Linked DNA regions of Homo sapiens: region 2 is linked to region 1. The links come from fine-mapping of genetic effects on gene expression. Tissue or cell type: whole blood. Region 1 holds a variant in brackets; the other region holds the start of a gene. All regions are shown on one strand. Distances are from middle to middle.

Region 1 (2,500 bases):
CCATATCTTGGCTGTTATGAATAATACTGCAATGAACGGGGGATACAGGTATCTCTTCAATACACTAATTTCAATATCTTTCGATATATACCCAGTAGTGGGAATTGCTGGATCACATGGTAGCTCTATTTTTAGATTTTCGAGGAACATCCATACTGTTTTCCATAATGGCTGAGAAATTCACCACCAGCGACATGCAAGGGTTTCCCTTTTCACCACATCCTTGCCAATGCTTGTTACTTCCATCTTTTGGATAATAGCCAATCTAACAGGTGTGGAGTGGTATCTCATTGTGGTTTTAATTTGCATTTCTCTGATGATTAGAGATGTTGACCATTTTTTCATGTATCTGTTGGTCATTTGTATGTCTTCTTTTAACTGTCTATTCAAGTCCTTTACCCATTTTAAAAACAGGTTTATTTGTTTTCTTGTTATTAAGTAGTATGAGTTCCTTGTATATTTTGGATATGAACCCCTTATTCAATGAACATTTGTAAATATTTTCCACCCATTCATAGATTGTGTCTTCACTCTAGTGGTTGTTTCTTTTGCTGTGCAGAAGCTCTTTAGTGTGATGCAATCCCATTTGTCTATTTTTGCTTTTGTTGCCTGTGCTTTAGGGATCGTATCCAAGAAATCTTTGCCCAGACCAAAGTCTTAGAACTTTGCCCCAGGTTTTCTTCTGGTGGTTTTTATAGTTTCAGGTGTTACATTTGTCTTTAATCCATTTTGTGTTGATTGTTGCGTAAGAGGTGAGACAAAGATCTATTTTCATTGTTCTGTTTGTGAATATCCAGTTTTCCCAACACCATTTGTTGAAGAGACTGTTCTTTTCCCATTGTGTGTTCTTGGCCCCTTTGTTGAAAATCAATTGTGGGTTTATTTCTGGGCTGTCCATCATATTCCATTGGTTGATGCATCTGATTTTAGGGTATATGTATTTTTAATGTGCTCCCCAAGAAGTCCTTACATTCTGCTGCATTGACAAACC[T/C]GTGGCCAAGTTTTAGGCCTAGGTTCTAATTAAGCTTAATTCTGGAGGCAAAGTCTCGGCGGGGACACCCAGGCCCTCCTCAGCCCTCAAGTCTCATGGTATTCCCCCCCACCCCAACTCCATTTAGTGACTCTGACAGTTGGCAGTGTGAACCTAGAGATCCACAATGGCTTCATCCTCGGGAAGATTCAGCTACCCAGGCCCAAGATGGCCCCCGCAAATGACACATATGAAAGCATCTTCAGTCACTTCCGAGAGTATGAGATTGCCATTCGCAAGGTGCCGGGAAACTTCACGGTATGGGGTTCCCCAAGGCCCCAGGGCCAGAACTCCCTTGGCTTCCCTGTCCCCTGGGCTGGAAGCACCCTTGTGTGCCATTGGGAACTTTGCTTATGGACTAAAGGGAGGGTCTGGGATGGTGGGTGGGCAGAGGAGGGAGTAGAAACCACCTCAGCCCTCAGAGCTATGCTCTTGTGAGATGCTCCTCAAAGGAATTGCCTACTAGGGCAATTGGGCACCCCAGAGCCCTTGTAGATGAAGCAATAAGGCTCTGAGAGGCTGTGTAACCTACCAGAGGGCGCCCCTGTTATGGGAGAGCTGGCATCTGCAAAATCCACCCTCTCTCCTCTCCACCACTGTTGATTCCAGCCCCTTCTGGGAAGATCTTCAGCATCTATAAAACACCGCTTTTTCTTTTAAAATACAAAATAAAATTGTGGTCATTACAGAGATCATGTGCTGCATTGGTAATTGTGGGGTTTGTCATCTTAGACAAAGGATACTGAAGGGGGTTGGCTGAAATCACCTCTAAAGGCCCACCAGCTCTCAGTGTCCGTGTGCCATGAAATAAAAGGATTTTGTTAATTGCTATCATTTTTGTTTCAGTTCACACACAAGAAAGTAAAACATGAAAACTTCAGCCTCCTAACCTCTGGAGAAGTGGGAGAGTTCTGTGTCCAGGTGAAACCATCTGTCGCTTCCCGAAGTAACAAGGGGATGTGGTCTAAAGAGGAGTGCATCTCCCTCACCAGGCAGTGTGAGTCAGCTGGGCTGCTCTCAGCATGGGGAGGGAGACTGGGAGGGCCTGGTGCAATCCAAAACGCGTGCACCTGGGATGCTGGTGCCAGCCACTGTGTTAGGTGCTGCTTCACATAGCTCTGCATCCTTAATAGGAGAGAGGTCCTACTGTCCTCATTTTAGAGATGAGGGAACTGAGGCTCAGTATTAGCAACTTCCTAGGGTTGCACAGCTAGGACTTGGTGGCAGAACCAGGTCTCTTGGATCTAGGGTCCTCCCACTGGAGCACAGCGGTGTTTCCCAACAACATCCCCCTCCCCCGGGGCCATCTTCAGTGAGCTGTGCTAGTTCCTGTTGTTACAGTCTTCTGCTGTTCTTCCTCAGAGCCAGGGATACAAAGGGCTTCTCCTTACTTCCCCTACTCTGCTCTGCTCCTCGCCAGAGCTGCTAAAGTCAGCAAATACTGCTCCAGGCTGTCAGTCAGGTGCCGGG
Region 2 (2,630 bases), 64 kb before region 1:
GAGGATGCCCCATGGCTGTGACTAAGGGTTCACCTTCTGCATGCCCTTGTGTACCCCCCTTACTGCTCAACAGTAAGAGGCTCTGATAACCCCCCAAGGCCTAGGGCCAAGTGACTTTGGTGAGGTAGAGACATGAACGAAGGAGCCCAGAGCAGAGGGCAAGGGAGGCAGCCTGGGAAAGAAAAGTCAAGAGGGGGCTGGAAGAATGGTGGGAAAAAAATGATGGTAAAGTTTGCAGAAACACATTGGGGGTGCAGAATGGACCACAAGCCAACTATAAGCCAAAACATAGGATGAGCTGATCTTTCCCAAACCCAGTGCTAGCCCATTCTTCCCAGAGTCCCAGGCTCTACCATGTCGGTAAGGTACAGAGAATTTGGAGGGGGCAGAAAACAAGACCTAAAGGAGAAATGAGAGCACAAAAGGGATTTCCTGGAGGAAAAGAAAGTGGAGGCACAGCAGAACAAGATCTTTGGAAGCCTTCATGTGTGTATGACTGGCTTTCCCACAGAGGACAGGCCAGCTGCTTTCTCCTACCCCAAGAGCAGCAGAAGAAAGGAAGTTGAGTGGTAGCAGGACTTGTGGTTAAACATCAAGAAGCACTTCCCAAGCATGAAAGTTATTAAGTCCAAAAAGAAGTGACCAACGGAGGTTGAAACATCCCCTTGAAAATCTTGAATGCACCCAGAAAGTCACAGTTTTCTGGGAAGGTTTAGGAGTGTAGTGAGGGGTTTAGACAAGATGCCCCTGAATTGCAGTTAGAATGCTTTTGATTTTCCAACCAGCAAAAATGAGATTAAAGTAGATTAGCCTGGATTCCCAATCGGCAAAGTTGGTGCTGTAACACTATGGATGCCCGGCAGGAGTGCTCACAGACCACAGAGCAGGAAACCCACGACTCAGCCACATAGCCCTGGGGTGCTCACCAGCCAGACCCCAAATCCCAGCAGCTTCTCCTCCCAGGGGCTTTTTCTAGAACCACGTTAAAAGGAGACCAAGAGATCTTGATCGTAAGTAGCTTCAAACTAGAAGAGGCACAGCCAGTTTCCCCCAAACCTGAAACACAGAGGTAGCTGTCCCACCTGTCTCCCAGCCTCAGCCCTGCTTCCTCAGCGCTGGGAGAATCTGGCCCGAGGCCTGAGGTCACACTCACCCCGTGGCTGTCCCTCTCCATGGTCTCTGAGGGGAAGAGTCCTCCAGGCTTAGCTGATGTCGAGGAGAAGATCCATCTTGGTCCCTGGCTTCTCAGGCATGTAGGGTAAAGGAGTTGGAGGGCCAAGGGCCAGCCCCCACCAAATGGGGCGGGGAAGCCGGTTGGGACGTGTGAAGTAATCCCCAGTATAAACAACACAGAACTAGCCAGACCTGTTCCTCTGCCCCTCATCGAGGCCATCCCAGTTACTCAGCGAATACCAAATTCCAAATACCGGGAACCTGAAGCTGCCTTTACTCATGAAACTGCCCCCACAGAAGCAGAGGAGTGTTCTGAGCTACTTCTTCAGAGGGGCCCTGAGAGAAAGGGCAGAGCCTTGAGAGGATGGTCTTGGTCCTGTTGACCTGAGCCCCTGAAACAGATGCTCCAGAGCCTTCTGAGGGATGACCCTATCCCCACAGGGGACGTTCCAGGCCAGGGGCAGAGCCCCACCTATGGCAGGACAGTGGGAACCTTCATCTCCAAGGACCAGGTGTCCAAATCCCAAATCAGGGCACATGGTCTCTGGGCGCATGGTCTGGCAATTGCTTTCTCCTGAACTCTGTTTGTTTTTATGAAACTCTTAACAAAGAAATGAAAATCAAATGACCTTTAATTATGCACATCATGAATTGCCCTCTATTGAAAACAATAAAGTGCCAGAAGCAACACATCAAAGTCAATGAAATAAAACATAACTATCTGAATGGAAACTGTTCCAAGAAACATTGGGCTGACTCGTGATCCCAAACCTATACCCTATTCTGATCCTCAGAGTCAAAAGAAGTAAAGGAAGGGCTATTGCAAAAGGAGTCCTTAGCACCTCCGGCTAAGTTCCAGCTGAGCTGCTGCTGAGAACTGCAAAAAAAAAAAAAAGAAAAAGGAGTTCCTGTTGAGGTTTGGGAAGAACTTTCTTGAGCATTCAGAGGCACCAAGATTTTTAGAGTTTGAAAGAAGCTCATGGATCTTTAGTGGTTCACTCTTTTCATTTTACAGACTGCGAGACAGAGGGCCAGAGAGGCTAAGGAATGTGCTCAAGTCACACAGCAAACAACAGCAGCAGCAATAATCTTAAGATGCCAAGAATCCTGCGAAACACTTCACACGCATCCTTCACGTGTTCATTCAACAAATATGTATTGAGTGCCTGGCATTGCTTTAGGTGCTGGGGACACAGGAACAAAATAGGCAAAGCCTCCTGCCCTGTGGCTCTAGTATTTGCGGGTTGGGGGGAAAAAGCAGACAAAAATCAATAAATCAGTTACACAGCCTCCTAGAAAGTGAAAAGTGCCGTTCACAAAAACAAAGCAGCGAAAGGATCCAGAAGGTAGGGGAGGCAGAGTCCTGGCAGTTGGGAACAGGATGGTCAGAGAGGGCTCTCTGTGGTGACATATTTGAGCAAAAACTGAAAGGAAGTGACTACTATCGCCCCCCATTT

What was found. PIP is the estimated chance that this variant, and not a neighbour inherited with it, causes the effect.
Region 2: TMPRSS13 starts here. The variant in region 1 is fine-mapped to the expression of TMPRSS13 in whole blood (INTERVAL, PIP above 0.99).

The regions. Positions count from the first base shown.
Region 1 is chr11:117,992,123-117,994,622 of GRCh38, forward strand. It overlaps IL10RA (interleukin 10 receptor subunit alpha), which reads left to right. Exons shown (of 7, transcript NM_001558.4): 4 at 1,119-1,288; 5 at 1,877-2,027. Among named protein-coding and RNA genes, the nearest start is that of IL10RA, 7.0 kb to the left of the region's middle. RefSeq lists an enhancer at 2,459-2,500. The variant T/C (reference allele first, on the strand shown) is at 992.
Region 2 is chr11:117,928,134-117,930,763 of GRCh38, forward strand. It overlaps TMPRSS13 (transmembrane serine protease 13), which reads right to left and starts at 1,269. Exons shown (of 13, transcript NM_001077263.3): 1 at 1,154-1,269. The coding sequence starts at 1,174.